Linked DNA regions of Homo sapiens: all the other regions are reported to be linked to region 3. The links are microRNA targets in miRTarBase. Many come from high-throughput screens and were not tested one by one. Region 3 holds a microRNA gene; each other region holds the end of a gene's coding sequence.
Evidence for each region. The annotated mature microRNA hsa-miR-8058 reads CUGGACUUUGAUCUUGCCAUAA and lies in region 3 at 2,922-2,943, opposite strand. An mRNA with a match to its seed (bases 2 to 7 or 8) in the 3' UTR can be bound and repressed. Matches are read on the target gene's strand: a 7mer-m8 pairs with bases 2 to 8, a 7mer-A1 pairs with bases 2 to 7 and ends in A, and an 8mer does both.

Region 1: miRTarBase lists TMEM233 as a target of hsa-miR-8058. Seed matches in the 3' UTR shown: 8mer at 6,173-6,180.
Region 2: the mRNA of ATAD2B is a reported target of hsa-miR-8058. Seed matches in the 3' UTR shown: 7mer-A1 at 4,447-4,453.
Region 4: the mRNA of SPANXN1 is a reported target of hsa-miR-8058. Seed matches in the 3' UTR shown: 7mer-A1 at 6,414-6,420.

Annotation. Positions count from the first base shown.
Region 1 is chr12:119,640,052-119,647,051 of GRCh38, reverse strand. TMEM233 (transmembrane protein 233) reads right to left here. Exons shown (of 3, transcript NM_001136534.3): 3 at 3,977-6,353. The coding sequence ends at 6,347. All of the region lies in intron 1 of PRKAB1-AS1 (PRKAB1, TMEM233 and CCDC60 antisense RNA 1), which reads left to right. Among named protein-coding and RNA genes, the nearest start is that of PRKAB1-AS1, 25 kb to the left of the region's middle.
Region 2 is chr2:23,746,184-23,753,351 of GRCh38, reverse strand. ATAD2B (ATPase family AAA domain containing 2B) reads left to right here. Exons shown (of 28, transcript NM_017552.4): 28 at 1,265-4,688. The coding sequence ends at 1,306. Among named protein-coding and RNA genes, the nearest start is that of ATAD2B, 180 kb to the left of the region's middle.
Region 3 is chr16:82,684,763-82,691,930 of GRCh38, reverse strand. It overlaps MIR8058 (microRNA 8058), which reads right to left and starts at 3,000; the gene lies at 2,912-3,000. All of the region lies in intron 1 of CDH13 (cadherin 13), which reads right to left.
Region 4 is chrX:145,255,084-145,262,251 of GRCh38, reverse strand. It overlaps SPANXN1 (SPANX family member N1), which reads right to left. Exons shown (of 2, transcript NM_001009614.3): 2 at 6,044-6,581. The coding sequence ends at 6,438. Among named protein-coding and RNA genes, the nearest start is that of SPANXN1, 11 kb to the right of the region's middle.

The DNA.
Region 1 (7,000 bases), not on the chromosome of region 3:
TAATTCCGTGGGTGGTCACTGGGTGTGTGGGTTGGGTTTCAGCAGAGGAATGATGTGATTAAGTCTAGGTTGTGAGATAACCCTGGCTGCTGTGTGTGTTTTTTAAGCGAATGGATGTCAAAGCAAGATGTAGTAGACAGAATAATGCTCGCCAAAAGATATCCCCATACAAACACCTGGAACTTGTGAATATGTTGGGTTACATGGTAAAGAGGAATTAAGGGAGCAGATGGAATTAAGGTTGCTAATCAGCTGACCTTAAAATAAGGAGATTTTTCTGGATCATCCAGGTGGACCCAAAGTAATGACAAGGGTCCCTAAATGGGGAAGAGAGAGGAAAAGGAGTCAGAACAAAAGAGATGCAGTGTGAAAAAGGCATCTTAAGGGGAGGAGGTAGATAATAAAGAAGATAATAAATAAGTAAATGGTGACTTTGCTGCCGTTGAAGATGGAAGGAGGCCCTGAGTCAAGGCATGTGGATAGCTTCTAGAAGGTGGAAAAGGCAAGAAAAGGGATTCTCTCTACGAACTTCCAGAAAGGAATCCAACCCTGCCGCCATCTTGATTTTGGTCCAGCAAGACCCGTTTTAGACTTCTGACCTCCAGAACTGCAAGATAATAAATTTGGGTTGTTTTAACTCATTAAGTTTGTAATGGTTGTTATACCAGAGAGCCCTGTAAGAAAGCTACTGTAGGACTGGTGCCGTGGCTCATGCCTTTAATCTTGGCACTTTGGGAAGCCGAGGTGGGCGGATCACTTGAGGCCAGGAGTTCGAGACCAGCCCGGCCAACATGGCAAAACTCCGTCTCTACTAAAAATACAAAAAATTAGCTGGGCATGGTGGTGCTAGCCTGTAGTCCCAGCTACTCGGGAGGCTGAGGCAGAAGAATTGCTTGAACCTGGGAGGCGGAGGTTGCAGTGAGCCAAGATCATGCCACTGTACTCAAGCCTGGGCAACAGAGCAAGACTCCATCTCAAAAAAAAAAAAAAGCTACTGTAATTGTTTAGATGAGCTTTGGTAATGGCTCAAGAAATATTTATTTACCTTCCCTTCTAGGCGTGCTTTAGGTCCTCTTTCTTGGGGGTGATCAGGCCATTTCTATATAGGCAGAATTTGGCCTTTTATGAGTTCCTCCCAATACTTTCACTCCAACTAGTACAACTAGTACAACTAGTCCCCATGCATGGGATTCCACGTGACCTGGGGGAGTAAACACTTGGTCACAGTTCCAGGAGCAGACAGCTTGGGTGCATCAGTGAACCAGTGTGGGTGCAAACTGGGAAATTCTACACTGGGACAGGAAGAGAGATGAACGCCGTGACCGGGTCATTGCAGGTCTGACTGGCTGCTCACCCGAGGTTTGGAACAGGTACTCGAGATGAAACTCTCTGATGCCTCATGCAGGCAATGCACAGAGGCAACTTCATACTTCCCTCTCCTGACCCCTGATAAATAGATGTCTACTGGAATGAATGAATGAATGTATTGGAAAGGGAATTCCTTCTTTCTGTGGCTTCTCCAGCAAGTGTAGGTGATGCCTGAGTCATCTTTATGCCTGCCTCTCTTTGTGCTTGTCCAAACCAGAATTCAAAGTGTTTTGGTGCAGGGACATATTTTTATAGGGCAATTCCCCAGACTTAAATATTCAATATTCGTGAGTATTTTTTAAGAATTGGTTGTAACCCATGAGTATGAACGTTATCTTACAAGATTTTTTTTTTTTTTTTTTTGGTAATTGGTGGCCCAGAACTGTCTCTTATATTTAGAAGCCTGAATCTAGGGTTACGTATCAAGATATGTGCATCATGCTGTTTTGCTGAATGCAGCTGTCCTGCTGTAGGCCAAAGGTAATTTGCTGATCCAGGAGCTGAGGCCAGCGATTTTATATCTGCATCTGTTTCTGCCCATAACTTGTGGGCAGAGACAGGGCAACTTCAAGAGCTGTAGCCCTATTGGCCTCAGCACTGCGAAGAATGGTAGGACAGGGACTGTCTTCCTTCCCTTTAGTACAGCCAGTGTGTTCTCCTGCAAAGTGATGGCACAATACTTTGTTTATGCCTCTGTCTGGGCACTCTCATGTTTCCTTCTCATTGTTTGTGTGTGTCTGTTCCCCCCACTAGACTACTGCCACCTTCTCAGGGGTCTCTCTTAAACATTCTGGAATTTCCACCAGCCCAGTTTCTGTGGTTGAGCAGGTGCTCTATAAATACTGGTCAGAGAAGGAGCTGGATGAAAGTGACAACACCACGGGGAAATTGAAAAGCTATGAGGAGGCTGGGTGTGGTGGCTCACACCTGTAATCCCAGCACTTTGGGAGGCCGAGGTGGGTGGATCACCTGAGGTCAGGAGTTCGAGACCAGCCTGGCCAACATGGTGAAACCCAGTCTCTACTAAAAATACAAAAAATTAGCCAGGTGTGGTGGTGCACACCTGTAATCCCAGCTACTCAGGAAGCTGAAGCAGGAGAATCGCTTGAACCCGGGAGGTGGAGGTTGCAGTGAGCAGAGATCGTGCCATTGCACTCCAGCCTGGGCAATGAGTGAAACTCCATCTCAAAAAAAAAAAAAAAAAAGAAAAGAAAAAGAAAAGCCATTAGATTACTTTGCCCTGCATATGGAAGGTATAGTAAGAAGCAGCATGCTTAATATGGACGCTGTTTTTTTTGTTTGTTTGTTTTTGTTTTTTTGCCTAGCAAATCTCTCTCCTTCTTCTGGTAAGAGTACTTTGGTTTTCCTTTGGGGAACCATCCTTCCCGCACCCTCAATCTATAAGGTTTGAGTGGAGCTGACCTCACATTCAGTTCCAGTGATTGAATCCTGACTTCAAGCCTGGCCAATGAGGGCACCACACACCCCTGGCCACAGCATCCATTTATGTTGGTACAGTGGCCACACCTGTTTGTTAATGACTGGTATCCATTTTGATAGGTCGGTTTCTGGTTTGTATCAGTTGTTCATTATATTGAATTGAACCATTTTTCCCCCCTGGAGCTATTAGGGAAGAAACACTGTCTTTCCACAGGCTGGTAGGAAAAAGTCCAAAGCTGTTGGCAGTCGTATTGTCCCTATTAAACTAAAATGAACTCAGCAAGTTGGGGCTGAGACCTGGAAAGGGACACGTTCCCAAAAACCCTGCGCACCAGGATCCAGCTGCCTCTGAAGCTATCCCTGGAAGTTTCCGTCTTGTGAGGGTAAACTCTACTTTTTCTGCTCTATTTAGCCAGTTTTTGTAACTGGCTGATGAAGGAGTCTCTTGGTTGATAATACACCTTTTTTTTTTTTTTGATACGGAATCTCACTCTGTCGCCCAGGCTGGAGTGCAGTGGCATGATCTCGGCTCACTGCAACCTCCGCCTCCCGGATTCAAGCGATTCTCCTGCCTCAGCCTCCCGAGTAGCTGGGACTACAGGCGCCCGCCACCACGCCCGGCTAATTTTTTGTATTTTTAGTAGAGACTGGGTTTCACTGTGTTAGCCAGGATGGTCTCGCTAGCCTGACTTTATGATCCACCTGCCTCGGCCTCCCGAAGTGCTGGGATTACAGGCGTGAGCCACCGCGCCCGGCCACCAATCTCTTTTTAAACTGTGCTTTTGCGAGTGGAGCAGGGGCAGTCTTAGCTTTGGAGGAAGCTCTGGACAAGCCCATCATCCCAACAAAAACCATTTTGTCCTTCTTAGAGCTTAGGACCTGGGGGACGCCCAACAAAAATCAGTGGCCCTCTTGACCCCAAGGAGCACATTTAATGACAAGATTTTTCTTATTTTATTTTTTTACTTTAATAGGACCAACATTTTCAGTGCCTCATAGAGGGACATTTCTGGCCATAAATTAGTTCAGAGTGATGCCTCTCTAGCGCCACCTCTGGCCTCTCTGGGCTCTTCCCTGGGGACTGATGCTGGACTAGATGAGCTTATTTTGGTTACGGAAATCTCTGGAAGGTGGGGAACCCCAAGAAAACACAATTCACACACTGTGGTACACAGGCTTACTTAAAACCATTTTTATTCTGCCTCTGAGCAACACTTTTCATTTGATTTGGGTAAAAGACCAGGGACCCAAACACGCACAAACAAAAAACAGGATGTCAGAAACAGAAATCAGGGTCCAATCTATTGGAATGATGCTAGAATCTCTGTGTGCTGAGATTTCGTGTCCCTGATTCAACGTCCTCCTGGGACAAGTGCTGGCTCATCACAACATCCGGGTAAAATGACAGGTTGAATCTGATGTTCATCAGAATTTTTTTTTTTTTTGCTAGGGTTCAGTATATGAAAAAATGCTGAAATTTGTATTGGTATAGTACTTAGAATTCTCCCCGCCAATGGTTAGTCACAACTATTACAACAATTAATTCTCATAACAGCACTGTGAGGTAAGTAGGCAGGCATTCTTATCCCCATTTTGCAGGTGAAGGAATTTTAGGCACAGAGAGGCTATGAAACTTGCCTAAAATCAGCTTGCATAGCTAGTTAGTGGCCAATAAAAACCCTGCAAAAACAAAAGGGCGTTGGAACTAGGTATTGACTCTCAGCCTCTTATTCATTCAATTAGAATAATCTGCCTTTCTTTTTTCTTTTTCTTTCGTTTTCTTTTCTTTTTTTTTTGAGATGGAGTCTTGCTCTGTCACCCCGGGCTGGAGTGTAGTGGCACAGTCTCAGCTCACGGCAACCTCCGCCTTCTGGATTCAAGTGATTCTCCTGCCTCAGCCTCTCTATTAGCTGGGATTACAGGCATGCACCACCACGCCTGGCTAATTTTTGTATTTTTAGTAGAGATGGAGTTTCACCATGTTGGTCAGGCTGGTCTCAAACTCCTGACCTTAAGTGATCTCAGCCTCTCAAATTGCTGGGATTACAGGCGTGAGCCACCACGCCCGGCCAGCATAATCTGCCTTTCTTTTGCTTCATTATCACCATCTTTCTGACATTAATTCTTTGAAGTGACTTTTGCCACATATACTTATCTGGTGTGTTAATTACTTGATATTTTCTTGAGTTCTCTTGTTTTTCTTAATTTATTTGAACAGAAACAATATGTCACATCCCCCACTGTGGGAAGCTGTAAATGGAAGGTAATAAATAAAATAAATACCATGACACAAAACAATATCATTAAATTCTATCTAGACAGAAGACTCTGAGGCCTGCTCTTTCTTTGCTAAAAAGGGAAAAGAGCCATAGTGTCTGAAAGGTGTAAAGGACCTGCTAGCACTAAACAGAGACTTTTTCCTTGCTGTAATCAGGATGAAAAAAGAATAGAAAAGGGGAAACATTCTTTGTGATTTGGTATTACTTAATGTTGTTCCTAGAAACTACTTAAAAATTATCTTGTGTACCACCAGTGGCACACCCCTTGTGCTCTGTGAGACACTGGGTTACTGCGTTCTGGCAGGCAGAATAATGGCATCATTAAACCAGTACATTCACATCTAAAGGGTTTACATTTGACAGAAAAGAAACACAATGGGTGGCATTTCCAGGTGGCATCCAGGAAAATCAAAGATCTTGCCTGAGACTTGCTAGAGATAGGAGAGAGAGTGAGAAATTGAAAAAAAAAAAGCACATTCTATAAATACAGCCAGTTTATTCCCAAAACTGGGATACAGGAAGTGCTCATGTACCTAGAATTGGCCACTAAGTCCATTCTCAGAGCCTGTTTGAGTGAAGAGTGAGGTTTTGGTCAAGTTGACCAACGTGGATGCAAGCAAGGGAGGGGGCCTATTTGGAAATATAAGCATCAAGACAAAAGGCCAGAAAAGCCCCTTCTTTGAGTGTTTGATGACCAGATGGGTGAACTCTGGGCATGGGAGTGCTGACTCCCAGAGGAGGAGTTACTGAAGGTTATAAGAATAAAAGGAAAAGCAAATCCACAACTTGAACTCTACTAGACAATTTTAAACATGCTGCAAATGTTTGTGCTCAACATTGTAAATACCAGCACCTGCTGCTCTTCCTAGAAACCTCCATCTCCCCCTATATGGAGACCCCCTGGATCCCCTCAGTGAAAAGTTATGTGATTTCCTGAGGCTCGCCTCTGGAGGACAGGAGTGGACACAACGGGATTCGCTAAACTGAGACAGTGAGACTTCATTTTTCTTTTTTCTGTTTTCTTTTCATTTTTACAAATCAATGACTTTGGCTGATCCGGCTGTGCAGCTTGGATTGCCTAAATTTTGGACTTTTTTTTTTTTTTTTTCTTGTTCATTTGCCAGGGACCTGCCTCTGGAGAGTCCTGGAGGAAAAGATCTCACAGTCTGAAGTCAAGGATCCATTCCTTAGAAACTCCTTTGGGGTGTGTGTGGATGAGGTCCATCCTCCACGCTCACAGCCCACTGACCGCTGGTTCCTCAGGCACTGTGTGGTACAGACAGAGAGAGAGAGAGAAAGACCGTGGGCTGAGCTTCTGTGGTTGGCTTTCCCAGCTCGATGCCTTCCTTATTTGATGATGATGACTCTGGTTAAACACATGTTGAAATGTACCAGCCTGCGTGCACACTTTTGACTCTAAGCAGGGGCTTCCTTTTGAGAAACATATTCTATTTGTAAAACTTATTTTATCTTACATGTGGTACGTGCAAAAAAACAAAAGCAAAAACAGGCCAGGCATGGTGGCTCACGCCTGTAATCCCAGCACTTTGGGAGGCTGAGGCGGGTGGATCACGAGGTCAGGAGATAGAGACCATCCTGGCTAACATGGTGAAACTGCATCTCTACTAAAAATACAAAAAAAATTAGCCGGGCGTGGTGGCGGGTGCCTGTAGTCCCAGCTACTTGGGAGGCTGAGGCAGGAGAATGGCGTGAACCCGGGAGGCGGAGCTTGCAGTGAGCCGAGATTGTGCCACTGCACTCCAGCCTGGGCGACTGAGCAAGACTCCATCTCAAAAAACAAAACAAAACAACAACAACAAACAAAATGCGGATATGGAAAAATGCCTCTTGAGCATTTCCGAACCTCACTCTCCTCCCCAAGGATTAGTATAGTAGTGCTGTTAGCAGTTTGG
Region 2 (7,168 bases), not on the chromosome of region 3:
AAAAATGAGTAAGACAAAGTCTCTGCTCTCAAAGAATATTTTTAGTATATTAAAGATTTATATGTAAAGGATATAGTTATTTTTCATGTGTAATTTTCTTTTCTTATTTGGCAATATATGATAAAACATTTAGCAGGAGTGATTTTTGTTGGCCACATGGAAGAACTTGTTGATCGGATGATGATCTGTTAATACAGCCTGTTAGTTTTGCAGAGATGTAGAATAGAATTTCTTTGGAGCTGTTTAAAGGGAAGGAAAAAATGCAAGTGTCTTAGATGTATTTGACATTTGCCCACCTGAATAAAATGTGCGGGGTAGAGTTATTCACATTTTTTTTAATTCTAGAACTTCTTTGTTCATATGGTTGCAGTTTTATTAGCTTGAATGCATTAAATACTCCTCACCAGTGAAACATCTCAGTGTGGAATCCTAATAATCTAGAGGCCTAGTTTAGGGAGGGAAGGGATTGATAACAGAATCAGCAGTGAGTGGCTTTCATGGTGGTAGTGATGGAAGCCACTCATTCTGGCTCTTTTTTAACCCTGTCTTTTCAGCTCTGGTTGGAGTGAATAGAAGTGGGAACACAATGCATTCTGCTTTTTGGCATAAGTTTCACTATACTGAATGCATTCATTTTGCTTTGGGAGTTAGTGAAATATAATGAGGAAGGAAGGGCTCAGTCTCTGGAGTGAGGCTGCCTGTATTCAAATCCTGACTGCCACCTGTTAGCTGTCAAATTATTTATCCCCTCTGTGCCTCAGTTTCTTTATCTGTAAAATGGACCTGATAGTAATACGTTTGTTCAATCTTCAATGTTATGGGAGTTAAAACTATATATATAAATTATATATATATGCATACATATAAATATAAATATTTACTTATATTTATGTATTTTATATATAGAAATCTCTTAGTAAATATCTGGCATAATAACTTACTCATTAAGTGTTGCTATCATCATCCTTATATTCATATTACTCATATCATACCTCATACTGATATTACTGGCATAATAAGTTAGTTATTTGTTGAGTGTGACCATCATCATCATCCTTATTGGCCTAAATATAAAATAGGAGGTACTTGGAAGTATCTAGGGGAGATAGTCTTAATTACCTATGGTATTATAATCAGGAAAATATTCAAAGTTTAACCTGTATCTCAAATTCATTCCCTAAAAATTTAAAGTGAATTCTTCCGTAATGAGGAACACTTTTGTCTTTCCCTTAATAGATAACATGCATTTTTTTTCCTTTTATAGGAGATGGAAAGAACAGTTCATATGTTTGAGACATTCCTATGAACTTTTCAAGATGAGTGGTTTATCCTCTCCAATCTGCTCCTCACAGAGCAGTCTTCTGAGCCATTCAATTTCAAATTGCACCAATTATGTGCAGAGCCTTGGTGTAAAGTGCTCTCTCACTCATTCTTTCTCTCTGTTGAATTTGGTGCTATTGTCTCAGGTACCTGAAACCAACCAGCCTACAAGAACCAAACAGAACTTCAGAAACATGTTGTATTTTCCACAAATAAAAAATACAACCCCACAGCTTGGAGATTTTGGTGCTACAGAAACTGCTCTCGCTTCTGCTCCTCTTTTTGTGCACTCTCTTTTGGAGACTCCTCTCTTAGGGAGCAGACCAGCAAACAGGAGGAAACTGGATGGGGGCAGTTCTAACTGTGTTGAATTGTTTAAACAGTGGGCAACTTGTTATTTTTTTTTCCTCCATTTTACCCCTTTAATCATATTTTTCCCCCATCTGGGTAATGGACTGAAACCTGTTTTAGAGTTGGCTATGGTCTGTTCTGGTGGGAAGCTGAAGAAACTGGATGAAATTAGGTCAGGCTCTTTAGAACTGCCTTTAACGTGCCTTTTTATTCATTTGAGGAAGATAAGGCTAAAAGGATGGGCTGTTTGAAGCAAATAAATTAGAAATATTTCTTTGGTCACAACCTTGAAAATAAGTTTTGATACTCTATGTCATTAAGAGACAACCAGTGTTTGGGTATGAAATGCCTGTCTTATTCTCAAAGCTCAATCAAGACACCCAGTAAGCCACATAATATACTAAAATGGTAAGTTTTCTTGTAAGGTCTGTTTTGGTTTAAGAAACATGAATAACAACAAAGAATAATACACAGTCCACACACAAAAAAACAAAAAACAAAACTGCACACGTTTTGGTATTGCCAACAATGATGACTAGAAAATAAATAGATAGTGGCCATTTTTTCTTCTGTCAGTGGCAATTTAATAGTTATTCATGTTTGAGTTCCCAGAGAAAAATGGTTTTCATATGTAGTAAATTGTTGTTTTGTTTTAAAGCCAGGACTTGCCAAATGGACAGAAAAGAGAGGAATTCATCAGAAGCTCCATAAAATTCATTTTCTGTATGCTTAATTGCAAACGAGCTCTGGTATGGTCCTTGAATAACAGTATTAATGTTTAAATCCCATCTCCTAAGCTTACCTTCACAACTCTTCTTTTTGATTGGAAACCATTTTGAATCTTGTTGAGTGATTTCTGTGAATTGTATGTATCTGAAATTAATTATGGGTTACTAGTTTTACAAAAACTTTCTACAAATTTGGAGACACAGTCTAGGCAGTTGCAATGAGGCAAAGGATGCAGTGACTTTTTTTATCAGATGATTTTTAAACAAAAAGAAAATTTTGCCAGCAAGTTGGCTTGGTATCTTCATTCATTGTAGCCGTTAGCTGCAGGTGTGTCTTTCCAATATATGCAACACATGTAGTTTGGGTTTTAATTAGGGCGAATGGTCTTGGACTACTGCAGAGATTCTGAGCTACCTCAGCTTTTTGTATTTTAGTTACCAACAGTGTTTACAGAGTCTTGTAATCACTTTGCCACCGTTTACATCCTGAAGCTAAGGTACTTGTCTCCTTGTCTTTGGCTCTTTGTAGTGTGCAGAAAGCATACTTTGGCCATAGCCTACTGCAGTAATCCAAAGTGCTTCTTTGCATTTACATTTACATCTAACGCCTTCTAATTCTAGCTTAATTTTTTTTTAAATGCCACGTGTTTTCTTTGTACCTAGTCTGTGAAGTTTCTGTAATATCCAGTTAGTCATACAAGTCAAGATGCTACCCATGTAGACACACTGTATTTTTAAGGTGGGCAAGTGCGATTAACGATGAACCATTTTAAAGGGGAGGTTATTTGAAACCTCTAATTTGATTATTGGGAGGATTTTCATGCTTTCTTTAGTATTTATTACCATCATACCGATTCAAACTATTTTATTGTCTAATACATTAGCATTTTGTATTTTGATGGAAATTGTTACAGAATTTAAAGATTTGATGAAATAAGATGTAGCAGATTTTTTGTAGCAAGTTTCTGGTAAAAGGGTTTTTTGCAAGTCTCAGGTTCTTGCTGCACTATTTTTTTTTAAATATTTATTCCAGTTATTCTAATTCAGAAGCATTCTTTTCAAGTAACAGCAGCACTTGTGAAAGGAAAAAAAAATGCACATGTTTCTTAGTAGGTTACTAAATTTGTACAATTAATTAAGATTTTAGCCATCAGTGAGTTTGAAAAGGGAAATGTATTTATTTTCAGCATTAAAATGCTTCCAAAAGATCAAGTTGCTTTTGTTTGTTTGTTTTTTTAACCGTAATGTAGATGGAGAAATTGGAGGCAACCTCAGTATAGGAACTGCCACTTTGAACAGTTTAGGTCTTAAAGAGAAAGTCAATCTAATGCCAAGGGGAGAACAATGAGCTGAAATTGTACCAACTCCTCTGGCCCTCCTTCCCTCAATTAAAAAAACACACTTACCAGTTTTGCTTATTTTACAGATATCTGGTGGTTCTATAGTTTAAAGCAGCTTGTGAAATTAAAAAAGTGGACTCAATTTTGTTTACCTTTCTGTAAGTTTTTCATTTTTGCTGTATAGCATTGGCAAAAATATGTACAAATTGACCTCTGTTCTTATTTCCTATTGTGAGCATTATAAAGATAAGCTCCTATGTAAAACCTTGCTCTCAGATGAGTAAAATATGTATCACAGCATAGCTCAGCAATAATTCATGCTCAGCTGTGGGGACCCTGGGGGCTTTTTGAAGATGATGGAACCGCACTAGGGTTGAAACTGATGGCTGTGGAGTTAATTGTGTTTTCGAGCTTGAATCTCACCTGTGATTTTTTTTTTTTAATGTTGTTTCATGACTTGATTTTTCTCATAAGCCAATGTATTTGTAGGTTTACTGGATTTTATTTTTAGGGAGTGGGTAATTTCTTCCCTTTTTTGATTAAGTTGGTTCAGCTATGGTGCTATTCAGTAGGTATCTTCAGTGTCAGGTCCCGTAGCTGAATGCCATTGTTATTATAATTATTATTTGTAATCACATTGTAAGCTTGAATTTGGGCTTGTACCTGCATCTTTTGTATTCTGTACATCTGGTTACTTAGACTTTGGGAGTCCAATTTGGTTTCAGTCATGTATGTCTACTTTGTAGTTTAAGTAGACTTCATCAACTATGGTCTATTTTGGGTTTGTAGTTTTAATTTAGAATTGTGTTAAATTGATGTTTTGCATTTGACTTCATTTGACATTAGTTGAAGTAAATTATTTAATTTTTGAATTCTGGAATTTGAACATTTACTGTAATTTGTAATATAACTGCTGTGAAATACTTGAATAAAGATGACAAGAAAAACATGTCTTTCTTTAGCTTAATTATGATCACTGTTGGCTACAAATGCAGTGCTACTTTTCTAGCTGATTTAGACTGTTTTAGAGAGAGGCATATTGCTGGTTATTAAGCACCCAAAAAGTCGTGTTATATGTTCCTTTTAGATTTTAAGTACACCTCACGATTTTTTAGCTGAAAGCTTTTTATGTTGAGAAAGCGTGGTTTTAGTTTTAGTTGAAGATTGTCTAAAATATGTTGTATAGAAGCAAATGGATTACTTCTGAGATTTGTTTTTCTAGCTGGAAGACTATACGATAACATATGATCAGGTCATATGGTTCATTAGTTTAAAATGTTTTCCTTTTTATCGGGTTGTTATCAGTATACTTTGTACAGTATAGCACATAATATGGACAGAGATTTCATACCAGAGTTTTGAAGGGCTTACTTCAAGTGAGTAGAATGTTCTTGGCTTCAGAATACCTATTTTTCCTGTGTGCCTTGAGACACCTTTTCATGTTCCTGTAGTACACTGATCTTCCTCAATATAAATTCTTACTTTTGTTTTTTGAATCACAGTAAAAAAGATGGATTTTAGTTAAGACTTTGTTTTGCCTGATTTTTCAGATTCTATAATTTCAACTTTTGTCTGTATCAAAAGATTGTTAATAATAAACCTGCAAAACATATTTTTAACACTGTCTGAATGTTTAGATAAAAAGCTTATAATTTGAGGCTCAATCAAGTTTTTTGGATTCTGGAGATGAAGTTTTATTTATCTAGTTTTAGTTTCCATAAGACTCAAAACTACAGTAAAATCTGAGGCAAATCTTTAAATCTATTTCATGTTATCCCTGTACCCTGACACCTACAAAGTTATCTAGTGACTGTTTAAAAATATATACATTCCCTCTTTTACCCCCACATGTATATGTTTGTTATGTGCCTGACATTATGCCAGGCATGTGGGATACACAAATAACATATTCCTGTTCTCAGGTAGCTTAGAGTCTGCCAGGGGAATTGGTATATATACCAGTAGTAATGATTCAGTGGAATAAGTGCTTTAACAGAAGGGACACAATAACGTTCAGAGTTCTGGGAAGGGAACCAATTAATTATGTTTAGGAATGGGGGAAATAAGGAAAGACTTCAGAGAAAGTTGGCATTATATTTGCTCTTCATCTCTATCTGGCTTTTCTAGAGTCGATCCCCACTTTACCAAAGTTTGTTCTTGTTTTTTTGTGTGTGTGACCTTTCATATTACATCAGATGTATTGTTACAGAATCTAAACCCTGCCCATATTTCAGGGCTGTATAGTATTATATATATAATATACATACTATGTATGTATGTGTAATATATATATATTACACATATGTATATATATGGCGTATGCTGATCTTTCTTCAGAAATTAGCTATGTTTTGTACTGCATTACATAGTAAGTTACTATGTAAATATAATTTATAAAACAGTAATTTATTCATGAGGGAAGGGGAGATAGAAAAGTATTATATTTCTTCTGTATTCCCTATAGGAATTTGAAGCAGTGCAGGATTCAGTAGATGCTTATTTAATTCCTTTAGATTTGCATGACATAGAAGGCACAAATTTACCTTAATCATTTTTTCATTCATTTATAAAATACATAACAAGTGCCTACCATGTATCAGGCACTGTTGCAGGTGCTAGAAATAAAGCAGCAAACTAAACAGAAAAAGTCCGTGTCTTCATGGAGCTTAAATTCTTTCTGATGTTGTGTGCCAGGTTTCTGTCATGGTTGATCAGAGTTCACATTATTTTTTAAAAGTGTGGTGCTCTTAAAAGCTCTTAAAGCACTTTTAAATTTCATTAAGCAGTGAATGAAGCATTTTGTTATTAAAAATTTGCCAGGAACTCTGCTTTTTCCTTCTTGCTTCCCTTATATTCCCTATCTTGGTGAGAAACCTAGCTGTCAACCTGAACTTTATCTTCTTTATGACCCATCTCATTCTAATCATGCAGCACATTCTGTTGATTTATTTTCCCCCTAAGCATGTCTCATACCTATCACCCTTTCTCCATTCCTGTTATCTTAGTTTGGGCACTAATCCTTTTGTTTGGACTAGTGTAATAGCTGTCAGTTCAGTAAACATTTAAGCATTTATTCAGTGCCTACAGAGTGCTAGGCATTGAGGGAGCATAAAGATGAGCAAGACATTGTGTCTGTCTTCAAGGACATTTTTATAATTTAACATACTTATATCACGTTTACTAGGTGCTGGAGACTATTCTGAGTGCTATACAGACACAAATGCAAATTCTTTTCATCTTTACAAGAACCTTATGAGATAGGTGCTATTATTATCCCCATTTTACAGATCAGGAAACTGAGTTATAGATTAATTTGCTCAAGGTCACACATCCAGGATTCAAATGTAGGCAGTTTGGCTCCAGAGTTGATGCTTTTAATCACTATGCTTGACTGCTTCTTGTGGGGGTAGACAGATAACAAACATCATT
Region 3 (7,168 bases):
AAATACAGGTTGCTGGCAGCTTTTCTGATTCATGAGGTCTCGGTAAAGCCTGAGGGTTTGCATTTCCAGCAAGTTCTCAGGTGATATTGCTGCTGCTAGTCCAGCATCATCGAGATCCCAATTTAAGAACCAGTGCCTCCTTATTAACCCATGTCAGAATATTGAGGGGAGACCATCTTTCCTGATTTCTCCCTTCAACTCTCCATTAGCCTCTTCTGAAGCCCGAGGAAAGGTTATCACAGTCAGCTTCTGGAAGTCACCATCCCTAATAGTACAACAGGCTTATAATGTATTTTCTTTGCTTGCCTTTCCCCAGAGTGGATCTATAAGAAGGACCTGGATACAGGTAGTTTATTTGGAAGACAATCTCCCCAAGTAGTAAGTGAGACAGAGAAGGAGAAAATGTCAGTAAAGGGTGCATTAATGAGTAAGGTACTGCCGAAGTTAATGGCACAGGCCTCAGAATTGTCCCACCAAAGGGCAGGGAGGCTGGGACACCCATTCACCAACTTTCACCCCTATAGCTTGAAGATTTTTCCTGGGTATGGATTTTGCATCAAGTCCCACCTGCCACATGCTCAGGCTATGCAAGCTGCTACTGGCTGCTGAGAATTCCCCAAAGCAGGAAGATGCTGGCAGCCATTGGCATATAGGGAGACTGACTGCAGGTGGCCTCTGAGGTGCACAGTACCTGATGCATAGTAACTAACTAACAAACACTTTGGTCTTCCTTTCCTCACTTGTAGGTAACACCTCCACGAGGGTCCCTGAAGGTCCAGACTTGTTCATTTGGCTGATTGTTATATCTCTGAGTCCAGTGCAGCGCCTGGTACACCATAGATGCCCAATAAATATTTGCTGAATGTGTAAATGAATCCAAAATCTAGGTGTTTCTCTGCATGTCCCTCACTGGCTCTATTCTCCCATTTCCTATGTGTCTTTATAGACATTGGCTGGCTTTCCTCTCAACCTTTACCTTCCCAGCTAGATGACTGATTCTTTATCTGCCACAGGCAACTAGAGCGTTCATCCTCATCCCTGGCTCTGCTTCTGGTCCATGATGGGACAGGCAGTTGCGGGGTTGACAGTCAGCTCAGCCGAGGCCAGGCTGCGTCAGCCAACACCCAGGTGACTCCCAGAGGTGTGAGCAGGTTGTGCCAGGCCAGGTGTGCTGCATGTGCACACATGCATAAGGATATCTACCATGTTTCTTTTATTCATGAACAACGGTGGGCATAGTGGCTTCCAGAGCACAGTAGTTCTGCTTCATTACTGTGGGTACAATGGTCACCTATATGAAAGGCTTTGGGCATCAGATTTTTTTCTTAAGTGTCTCTTTGCTCATTCTCACGAGATGAACTCTTCTGCCCACGAGGCTGTGCTAGGGCCCTGTGTATTTTCTATCCAGAATAGCTTAGGCTAATCTACAAACTTGTGTGCTTCCTCTTCTGGATCATCAATAAATGTGTAAAGACAGACCAGCCCTAAGATTATTCCACAGAGAACATGACTCTTAGATATTAATTTTTTGTTATTTTTGTGTCCAAGCCAAGTTCTTCATTTATAGCTAAATATTAAAATACAACTAAATATTTAAAAATAGCAATGCTTTAGGGTTGACACATTTCCAAAGCTTTCTGGTAGTCTACACAGTATATGCCCACTGGTTGTCTCACCATTCTTCTTCATATTTATTTCCCTCCACCAACCCCACCCCAGCCACCCACCCGGGGTCATGAGAAGATTTTTTTTTTTTTTTTTTTTTTGAGACAGAGTTTCTTGTTGCCCAGGCTGGAGTGCAATAGCACAATCTTGGCTCACTGCAACCTCTGCCTCCCAGGTTCAAGCAATTCTCCTGCCTCAGCCTCCCAAGTAGCTGAGATTACAGGCATGCAACACCATGCCTGGCTAATTTTTTTTTTTTTTTTTTTTTTTTTTTTTTTTTTTTAGTAGAGATGGCGTTTCACCATGTTGGTCAGGCTGGTGTCGAACTCCTGACCTCAAGTGATCAGCCCACCTTGGCCTCCAAAAGTGCTGGGATTATAGGCGTGAGCCACTGCCCCCAGCTATGAGAAGATCTTAATCAGGCACAACTTACTGGGACAGAAATGCATTACATCTTCTTCAGAAGCTATGTTTGCTCCAACCTGTGGTATCTGCCCTTTCAAGCAGACAGCCCAGTTTGTCCAGAATGTAAATGTGAGGCCTGGCACTCTGAGGACAGGAGTCCCTTTACAATACTTTACAGAAACGGGAGGGGGCTATGCACATCCATGATCCTGATTTATGTTAAACATTAGGGCATCAAACACATTTGCCATTTGCAGCAACATCCCAGAAAACAATCTTCAAGTGTAGAAGAAATATGGCAGTGACGGAAGTCACTCCTGTCATCCTCGAGCCTTCAGGCAAGGTGGCCTCAAAAATAAACCTAGATTGTGAGATTCAGTTTGGAAGAGACTTGAAAACCCACAAAAAATCCAATGTTATGTAAAAGGAGGTTACTAAACTGACTATGATAATGATAGTCTTAATAATGGACCCAAATGATAACATTGGCTTTCTGTAAGAGTGGATGAATATGATAACTAACAATTTACCTACGGAATACATTTTTAATAGCAGTGATTCATACCTGCTGAGAAAGCCATTCCCACTGGAACCTGTATGGGCCCATTTCTAATTCAGATATTTTCTGCATCCTACCAAGTAATGTCAACTGCACAGTTTGACAGGCTGGTTTTATCTTGAAAAAAAAAAAAAAATGTTTGGATGCAGGCAAGTTAGAAGAATAAACCTGAGTAAGTGTGTTAACCCTACTAGAAAAATACCCATTACTTTATACATGTTATTGCCCTAAGCATGAAGAACACAGCTGGTGTGAAAGACAGCTGACCTAGTTCTTAAATGGAGGCATACCATTATGGCAAGATCAAAGTCCAGGTGCCCTGGTTCTCCGTGGGGCCTGGATCTTTAATGTCTCAGCACTGGCAGTGACCAGGAAGCCTGACCAAGCCCCTCTCTGGGTCCTATTTGGTCCCTTTTCCAAGAAGCAAATTGGTCACATGGTTACCCTGTTCCCTTTTCTTTCCATTCTCAATCTGCCTGGTGACCAAATCACCAACCCAGGCCTCTCCATTTTTCTTACCTTATTTTATTGCTTTGTAAATAACAATAACAACAAATTCCTTAATATTGAAAATATATTTTTTAAATGAAGGTAAGAATAATTGAATGCTCACTTGATCATCCTCGGATCTTTATTTCTTGTTACAAACAATATCAGAACCATCCCAAAATGGTTCAAAAGAAGCATGTCATCAGATGAATGATGTTTTCACTATTACACTGTAAAATATGTTGTCATAGTTGATGTTTTATTCAATAAATATTTCTGAGTCTCCATTGATGGAAAATGCAACCAGAGAACATGAATTCTGCTTTGATAGACTTCAGAGTCTTGAATGGTGATGACCAGGGCTGAACTTGTGAGCTTCATTATTTGATTTAGTGCATAAACATGCCTGTGATCATGGCTTCTTTTTACAGCTGAGGAAGCTGAAGCTCAGAGAGGTTTAAAAGTGAGCCTAAGGCATATGGTTTGCCTTAGCGCTTTTGTGTATTTAGGGGCTTAGATTTGTAGATCAGAAACCATGTTCCCAGATACACATGGAGCCCAGCAGGGCATTCGAGACACAGCCTGGAAGTAGCAGTTGCTGCCAGGCTATACCAGTGTTGGACGAGATCTCTTGGCTGGTTCACTTGAGGCAAGAGCCAAGCAACTACCCTGTGGTTACTTGTTTAGAGATTCCAGGACAGAAACCCCAGTAACCCAGCTTCACAAAAAGGTAAAATCACAAACACTGTTGTCATTTCTGCACTTGAACCATTGCTGCCATATAGATCTGTGATCACTGAGGGCCTACATCTGTCACTGCCATGTTTCATTGTGGCAATGGACAGTAAAAGTTGTCCTACGAACGCGGTCCCAAGCATGTCTGAGTCCAAGGAGGTGCCTTGGATCCCCTTGAAGCTCCTTACTTAGCATCCCTGACGGTTTGCCCTGGCTCTGCTCCTACCCCCGAGGACAGCCAGTTTGAAAAGAGACTCTTGCTGGGTCACCATGTTAGGATCTACCAACTTTGATAGAATGAGATCAGAATGGAAGGCAACCATATTCCAAATGATATCTATCCCACTGATATGGCTTGGCTCTGTGTCCCCAGCCACATTTCATCTTGAATTGTAATAATCCCCACATGTCATGGGAGGAAGTGGGTGGGAGGTAACTGAATCTCGGGGGCAGGGTTTTCCCATGCTGTTCTTGTGATAGTGAATAAGTCTCACGACATCTGATGGTTTTATACATGGGAGTTCCCCTGCACATGCTCTCTCTTGCCTGTCACCATGCAAGATGTGACTTTGCTCCTCCTTCACCTTCTGCCATGATTGTGAGGCCTCCCCAGCCATGTGGAACTGTAAGTCCATTAAACCACTTGCCTTTATTAACTACCCTGCCTCAGGTATGTCTTTATTAGCAGCTTGAGAACCGACTAATACACCCACATAGACCAGTAAAGTTGTCCTCCAGCTGATATCACTTACATCTTGCTATAAATTGGAAATAGTAACCCCACCACCACCCAGTATCCCAGAAGTTAAGATTTAGTTACCCCTTGTGCTAAACCCTGCCTCCTCCTTTACACACCTTCCATCACTGTTCACAGGCACTGACCTTTCCCTGACACCAGCTTCAAAGCTACCATGAGAGAGGACTTGGCCTCTCCATCTTAGGTAAACAGATGACCTGCAGCCCTGAAATCCTAAACGTAATGGGTAAGACTCAGTTCCATTCCCCTCTCTGCCCATTTGTACAATGTCTGAGGCAGATTCCTACATCTACGAAGGGAGAGAAGCAGTGGATTTCCCATACACAATCTTTATTGAACGAAGCAAGAGCTTACAAATGTTGAGCTCTCATTTCTAGCATTTTGATGAAAAACAGACAATGTTGTCTGTGTAAGAGAGATCCAAGGAAGAATTCTCCTGTTGTAGCTTGAGTAAGAAGTCGTGTTCCCTGTGTTGTTCCACATGGTGGGGGTGTTATGGCCATGGGTATTGATAATACCCAAAATGATTACTCAACATCAACTCTCATTTATAAAGGCTCTTCTTGATCACTCTATTTCCCCTGTGCATCAAGCAACATTCTGGGTTGTCAACGGAAGGAAGAAAGGCCTGCACTAAAATCTTTCATGCACGTTATCTCCGGGAATCATAACAATAATCATTGAGGAAAGGAATATTCTCATTTTTAGAGCTGAAAAACCGAAGGCCAGAGTGATTAAATAATGGACTCATCTTCCATAGTCAGTGAGCGACTGGCCTCGTTGTTCTCTGGCATATTCTGTGACCCATGCATCGCACTGCTGCCTCTGGGAAAAGCCGAGCCTGCATTCTTTAGTTCCTCTCCCATACAATCTCCGTTGACACCAGTAACCAATCACACAAGGGAAGCTGGCACCCAAATGGATGCTAAGACCCTCTGCATTTATAAGTGTATTGATCCTAACTGGTGATTGTGTTCTAGTCTCTCATGGCTCTCCGCAGAACCAGGAGGAGACGAATTCAAAGATCTACCACTGCTAAGGTGACTTCCTGTTCTAGTTTCAACAGGAAAGTCCTGATTTACTTTCAAGAGTATTCTGCTTTGAATTAGAAATTGTATGATCACTCTCTCCAGACCCCACAAACACAAAACACATGTTCTCTGCAAATGATAACCCTGTATTTTGATAATTAAGATGAGGATGCATTACCCAAATTTCTGAGAAGGGTGTGGAAGTGGAGCTAAGGGTGATTATCATTTCTACTTGCAGTTGGGAGAAAAAATTGTAATTCACTAGGGATAATGCAGAAGAGAAATATGGTACTCTTTCCTACCTTAATTATCAGCTCTCTGTGCCTATTCATCATGATTTAACCACTAGAGGAACCATGATATGTGGGTGGCGGCCATTCCTAAAGGGAGCACCTGAAAACCACGTATCAAAAAGAGGACTGTCTCTGCTTAAAACAAAGGTTCTGTTTTAAGACCTCTGAAGTGGCATCTAAGCAGAGTGGAACATTCTAGACTTGGTTAAACCTCTCCCTGGGACACAGGGCTGAGGGCACATAGGAAGAGATAAAAGCCAACTGAAGCGAAAGCTGCCTGAGCCAGGCGGGGTTGAACACCTGCTGGCCCCCTCACAGACTGCAAACTCTGCCTTGTGTACAAAGCACACACACAGAGCACATGCACACACACACATCCACACATGTGCAAGTGCACACACACAGGCACAAACACATCTTTCTTAGCAGCTAATAATTCTTTCTCCAGATGTCACTTAATCACCTACACCTGATCTCATTATCTTTGCTACAGGCTAAAGATTTATTCCCCCCAACATCCATATGTTAAATGTCTAACCCCCAAGGTGATAGTGTTAGGAGGCAGGGCCTTTGGGAGGTGATTAGGTCATGAGGATGAGCCATTATGAATGGGATTAGTACCCTTATAAAAGAGGCTCCATCCAGATCCCTCATCCATTCTGCCAAGTGAGGACACGGCTAGATGGCACCATGGATGAGGAAAGCGGGACCTCACCAGACACTAAATCTGTTGGCGCTTTGATCTTGAACATCCCAGCCTCCAGAACTGTGAAATGAGCATTCATTGTTTTTAAGCCACCTAGTCTATGGTATTTTTTTATATAGCAGCTCAAACAGATTAAGATCATCTCTCAACAAAACTGAAGTATTTTTTCCCCTCATTGGATCATTTCTCCCAGAAAGGCCTTGCCTGGCAATGTCTGCGCACTGAGTTATTGCAGGTTTACCGGCCAGACACACATGTTGCTCCACAGCAAACACTGTCTCAAGTGGTGCCCACCTTGGCTAAATTTCCCAGCTCCAAGAATACTACACATTAAATAGGTGAATTTACTCATTTTCAAGCGACTACTTAAATGTGATTTATATTTCCTCAAAGAATACCCAAGTTGTTTGTCCTCCACCCTTATCTTCCTCAGCTCTCAGAAGGAGGCTGTGGCCTTAAGAAAGCACAACTTGGGTATGGGCTCTGAGTGGGCTCAGGCTATGCCTGCAAGTCATGTTTGCAGAGGAT
Region 4 (7,168 bases), not on the chromosome of region 3:
GGGGTGGCATCAGCAATTCACGACTATTTTTTTCTCTCTTCAGTGCCTCTTTCAGGGATATGAAATTAAAATGAGGTACGAGGAGTGCTCACTTGATTTTTGGTTCTTAGGAAGTTAGTGGATTGCTTGTGATGTGCACCACATTTTGGTTTAATGTTTATCCAATAATAAAACTGTTTTCTTTCTCTTCTATCTTCGTAGAAAGGCTTTCTGGGTTGAGAGGAGATTTGTTTAAAATTCGATTTGTTTCCCAACAATACCTCTTCTTTCCTTCCTTCCTAAAGTTTTTACTGAGCTAGTCTGTATCAGGTATTATCCCTACCTTTTGTGAAACACAGAACTTTCTTCCATACCTTTCTAACCTCAATTACTGTCACCACAAAACACAGATAGCTTTGCTAGGAGCATGTCGTTGGTAAGGGAGAAGCAAAATGTTGACTACAGTTAACTGTGGAAGTAATGTTAATTGAGTATTGGAAGACAACATTGTATAAAGTACTCTTCCTAGATTCTAGACATCTCCAACTAGAATCTACAAGAGCTGCTGTACAGAGAAGTAGGTTACTACCTAGAGGGAGACGCCGGGTGGTGGGAGGGTGTGTTTGCTTTGCTTGTTTTGCATTTTGTTCAATAGTGGGAGTGACTGAGCATTTTTGAATGTAAGAATGTAAATTACTTAAGCCACTATGGAAAACTATTGGGAAATTTATCAAAGAACTTAAAACAGAACTGCCATTCCACCCAGCAATCCCATTACTGGGTATATATCCAAGTGAAAATCAATTGTTTTACCAAAAAGACCCACGTACGTGTGTGATCATCACAGTACTATTCACAATAGCAAAGTCATGGAATCAATCCAGGTGTCCATCAATGGTGGATTGGATTTAAAAAAATGTGGTACATATATAACATGAAATACTATGCAGCCATAAAAATGAGTGAAATAATATCCTTTGCAGCAACACATATGCAGCTGGAAGCCATTATCCTAAGCGAATTAACAAAGGAACAGAAAACTACATTCTACATGTTCTCATTTATAAGCAGGAGCAAAACACTGGGTATTCATGGACATAAAGATTGGAACAATAGACACTGGAGACTACTAGAGTGGGGAGGGAAGGAGTGGAGCAAGTGTTGACAAACCATTAGGTACTATGCTCACTACCTGGGTGATGGGATTGTTTGTACACCAAACCTCAGCATCACTCAATGTACCCAGGTAACAAACCTGCACAGGTACCCCCCTGAATCTAAAACAAAAGTTGAAGTTATATATATAAAAAAACAAATGTTGACAAGAAGGAATAAGAAGCTGGTAGACAAGATTGAAGAAACAGGTGATAGAACATTTATGAATTAAATTCCCTGAAGAGGTGGTAACAAATGGGATTTGCCTCAGACTGAAGGAAAAATACCTCTTCAACTGAGATTGGAGATGGGAAGAGAGCAGGTTGAGCAAGAGTCCAGAAAATTGCAGATAGCTGGCATTTAACCTCATTTGGGTTTTGGTGATCTAGACCCTGACATCTACTACCAATGCCACTATTAACACACACACACACACACACACACACACACACACACACACACAGAAGCAATACCATGCCATTTTCCTTCTTGCATTTGGATTAGCAATTGTCTTTCATGTATAGTCTTGACCCAGTCTTTATTCTCAATATCTGGCTGTGGACCTGCCAGTTTGGCCCCTAACCCTGCAGAACCCCTCTTGCCTCCCTTCTCACACCACTTGCTTCCTTTCTCTTTCTCCACCATCAGATAACTTGCAGAGACACATACACATATGGATGACACAATTCAACTGAAAACTTAGGGGCTTTTACAACTTGTTGATTTTATTTTAATCATCACTGTGGAAGATTTAACCTCTACATTGTTAGTCATTTCTCAGCAGCCATACCTCTGGAGACAGAAGAACTTTTTGAGAGGTCTGTTCTTCACTCTGCAGTCACAGGATGCACACTTCACTCGAAGAAAACCCCAGGTTTTCTTAGTCTTAGTCTCCCTGATTTTGATTCACTTTCTCATTGGGCCTGTAATAATGACCGAATAGTTTTGGCCTTTGGCTGATGTAGGATTGCTTCAAGAGATGGTAGTTCTTAGAGATTTTTCTCTTGAACACCCTTGAAAAACTACTGGCTACTTTTACTTTTATGATTATCTCCTGCACCTGGTAGGGAAACAGGGTGCTGTCAGGTCCTCTTCCCATAAGGCAGTGATTTAGGAGAAGAGAATGTGAAATGCATAGGAAGGAGGGTTTACTGAACCTGGTTATGGGCTGAGGAGGGGATACATACCACATAAGGTTAAGGTAGGAGTCTTGGAAGTGGTAATATAGTTAAGGGGACAGAGAAAGAACATGGGCAGCTTGATCTGACCTTGCCACTGTCTCTGGACTTGAGTTCATATGGGATATTCATTCTTCTTTCCTTTGGTGTCTGTGGTTGGTTGTTGCATGTCTGGTGTTGGTTGATCCATAGCTGTGTTAGGCAACTCCGGTTTGCCAGTTACCTCTTCCATGTTGATGTCAAGCAGTAGTATAGCCCGGGGCCCCACCCTCTTTATGTATACTCCCTCCCCCAACATGTGGGTATTACAATTTGGATTACAATTCAAGATTAGATGTGGGTAAGGATACAGAACCAGACCATATCAGTATGAAATCATGGTATCTTTGAATTTATATGGCAGAAAACATGTGCATTTACCATGAGCTTTCTGAGGAAAAGTCAAGATATAATATTTATAGTGAATAGATACCAATTCAGCCTCTGTATTCAAGACTGTCTGGGTTTGAATCTCTATTTCACCGCTGGCTATGTGGCCTCCATTTCTCATTCCCTAAGGATGCTGATAGCAAAACTACCAGAATCATAAGCTTTTTATGAGGGTTAAATTACCTTATGCATATGAAGTGCTTGATATTTAGGAAATGCTAAATAAATGTTAGACGTAATTATTTGAAAATGTTAGATATCATTAGTATTATTAGTAGTGTTATTCACATTTAGTGAAGCATTTCAAGGCAAAGATATATTCTTCATTTAAATGTGCATTATTTTATTTGTTTATTTATTTATTTATTTTTTGAGACAAGGTCTCACTCTGTTACCCAGGCTGGAGTGCAGTGGCTCACTCTTGGCTCACTGCAACCTCCTCCCTTTCGACTCAATTCTCCTGCCTCATCATCCTGAGTAGTGGAGACCACAGGCACACACTACCATGCCCGGCTATTATTTTTGTATTTTAGGTAGAGATGGGGTTTCGCCATGTTGCCCAGGCTGGTCTCAAACTCCTGACCTCAAGTAATCTGCCCACCCCAGCCTCCCAAAGTGCTGGAATTACAGGCGTTAGCCACTGCGCCTGGCCAAAATGTACATTGATTTAAAGTTTACTAAAGTAAATTTATCTTTTGAGGTCTTTTAAAAATTAGGCTGTTTCTCAAAGAACTTAAAATAGAGCTACCATTTGACCCAGTAATCCCATTACTGGGTATATACTCAAAGGAAAATAGATCATTATATCAAAAGACACATGCACTCGTGTGCTCACCACCACACTATTCACAATAGCAAATGCATGGGATCAACCTGGGTGCCCATAAATAGGTAGATTGCATAAATAAAATGCGGTACATATACACCACGGAATTATATGCAGCCATAAAAAACAATGGAATTATGTCCTTTGCAACAACATGGATGGAGTTGGAGGCCATAATCCTAAGTGAATTAATGTAGTAACAGAAAACCAAATACCAGATGTTCTCATTTACAAGCAGGGATTAAATAGCACAAATGGACATAAATGTAGAAACAATAGACACTGGAAACTACTAGATGGGGGAGGGAGGGAGGAGGGCACGGGTGAAAAAACTACCTATTGGGTACTAGAATCACTATCTGAGTGCAATATATTCATGTAACAAACCAGCACTTGTACCCCCGTAGCTAAAATAAAACTCGAGAAAAAAATTAAGGTTGTGTAAAATGAAAATAATAATATAATTAAGATCATTATATCTACTATCTATGCCTAGAAATTTTTTTGAGTAAATAACATCCTCAACTTTTTTGAGTAGATATCAGCCTCAGCATTGTATTAAACTTTCAACTAGAGAGACTTATTCCATTATCTTGGATATTTTGGATGTTTTTGCACTTAGATTAATGTGCTACATAGACCCAAACATTTAGCAATTACATCTAAATTAATGGAATTAGGTACTTGGACATCACATTTAAAGGGTGTTTCTTTAACTAGCTCAAGATTATATTTTTAGTTATAACCACAGCTGGGGCTAGAACCTTATATAATATGAGTCACTATCAGTGTTTTTTTCTCATCACCATGCTACACTTCACTGTCCATGCTTGTGCCATCATTCAGCAAGTATTTACTAATTGCCTGTTGTGTGTCAGGCTCCATGCTATTTCCAGATGATACCACAGCAAACAAGTTCAAATCTGAACTTTCAGGAAATTAGCAGTCAAGCTACCACACATCCTTGCCACTGTTCAAGTTTTTATATAACATAACTCTTATTTTTCAAATGACATCAAGCTTAAAAAACCCAACAACCTTCTCCTTTACACCAGGGAAATATGGTAGCAAGTGTTAGACATTTTGATGTAGAGAGTAACAGGCATGGTGAGATATTCACACCCACAGGAAAGAGCTGTAGCGGGCAAGGCCCTCTGAGAGCTCACTAGATATCACCAACAAAAGCCAGATTGATAGCAGAAGAGGTATAGAGATTTGTTTAAGGGGTGTATTTGGGAGCCTTCAGAATGAAGACCCAAAGATACAGGGGAAATTGTGCATTTTATGCCTAGGTTTAAGGAAGTATGGATAGAGGCTCAGAAATAGGATTGGACAAAAAGGGTATAAACTAATACTAATGAACTGAGTGGGGAAACACAGAAAGGCCTGTATGTCTAGATTATTCTTGGCTTCTTTGAGCAGCATTCTTCCTTCTGGGTGTGGGGCAGGGACCCCTCTGAAATGGGGGCCTTCTGACCTACAGTCAGTTTCTTTATGGCTAGTTTTTACACGGAAAAGCGGAGTGAAAATGAGAGTAATATTTTTAGCTTTTTTTTTTTTTTTTTTTTTTTTTTAAGATGGAGTCTTGCTCTGTCACCCAGGCTGGAGTGCACTGGTGTGATCTGGGCTCACTGCAAGCTCCGCCTCCTGGGTTCACGCCATTCTCCTACCTCAGTCTCCTGAGTAGCTGGGACTACAGGTGCGTGCCACCACGCCCGGCTAATTTTTTTTTTTTTTTTGTATTTTTAGTAGAGACGGGGTTTCACCACGTTAGCCAGGATGGTCTCAATCTCCTGACCTCGTGATCCACCCACCTCGGCCTCCCAAAGTTCTGGGATTACAGGCGTGAGCCAACGCGCCTGGCCATATTTTTAGGTTTTATTGCTGGCTTTGGGGAAAATATGGTTTAGTTTCTATGACACACCTTGGGGAAGAAGGATTCTAGTTTCTATAGCTAGCCTTGGGGGAGAATGAGACTGAGAGACAGGAGGGTAGGAGAAGATTAGAGAAAGACTTTTGCTCCTGAGGTCTTCATTTTGGGGTACTGTTTTCCAAGCTCCAAAAGAGCAAAATTACAGTTGATCATTTTGTAAACAGCTTTTCCAGGACAAACTCATCCACATCAACTGCCTAAGGGAGTTTATGCCACTTTCCCCTAAGTTCCCTACTGTGGTCCTACTAATCATAGGTATGGCACTCAAAAAGTGTAAGTCTGGCCTGATTCCACATGACACCATATCAGAGAGTTGAAGAAAGACAGTATGATCTCTCCTGAGGCTTTTGCTTCTCTGAGTTCAGTGTTCTCAATATATCGTCCATTTGCTTCACCAGATCCATTCTCCACTCTACTTTGTGCTGCTAAAAATCTACTCATATAAACCATGGACTGTATTAATAAGCTGTCTTGTTCTATGGCTTCGGGTTAGTTTTAGTGAATGGTAGGTCCCTGCAGATCACTGGAGAAGGAGGAAAATGAAATCAGAATATTTATTTATCTGGCTCCTTCCTTGGAGAATTTCTGTAATTTCTGAAATTTCGATTTCATTTCTTGACCTAGATGATCGCTTTTTCTCTAGGTCTTCATCCTCCTGTGAAGATCCTTCAGGTAATTCTACGTCTTTATCCTCCTGTGAAGATCCTTCAGGTAAGTCTAGGTCTTCATCCTGCTTTGAAGATCCTTCAGGTAAGCCTAGGTCTTCATTCTGCTTTGAAGATCCTTCAGGTAAGTCTAGGTCTTCATCCTGCTTTGAAGATCCTTCAGCTGAGTCTAGGCCTTCAGGTAAGTCTAGGTCTTCATCCTGCTTTGAAGATCCTTCAGCTGAGTCTAGGCCTTCGTCCTCCTCCTCTTGGACTGGATTGATGGAGTTCTCTCAGGACTGGTCATTCTCCAGTTGATTTGAATGTATTTTCTTAGCTTTCCTGTAGCAAAACGCTAATACTGTTGAATATTCTGACGTTTTCATCTTTTTCAAACTCGGTTCGGGGGCTAAGTCCCTGTTTGGTGTCTCCTGCATCTGTTAAGAAAACAGGGAGAGGCCAGAAAGACATTATTTTGGGTGAATAGGATAGAGACTGGATAGCAAGGGGGGCTTTATGAGAAGGAATGCAGGTGGAGGAAGGGGTGTGTGCCAGAGAAGAACAAGGTTGAATCATAGGGTAGGGATCTATGGGGAAGAAGAAGAGGAGCATGGGTAGGGTCACCTGTTAGTCCAAAGTGCACCATTTTGTAAGTTCTTTGCCATTTTGCAGACCTTGGTCAAAGTGAAACATCCCATGGGGGTTCAGGCCGTGAGAAACATCCTGCCTAACCACCTGTCCACAAGGCGGACAAAGGCCCAACTAAAGAAACATCCCTATCATATCTTGCTTGGCAAAGTTCTAAGGAACACCACAATGATATTCCACCAGAAAAAGGGCCAAACCACCTGATCATAAGAACATCTTATCAATATCCTGCCTGGCAGCAAGCCATACTGCCCAGATCCCTCCCACCCATACCTGTAAGTACCCCAGGCTGTAAGCAGTGGTGGGATCTGGCATTAAGCTGTTCCCCCACTTCCACAAGTTTCTGCAATATTCCTGTGTTGCTGTTTGAGCTGCC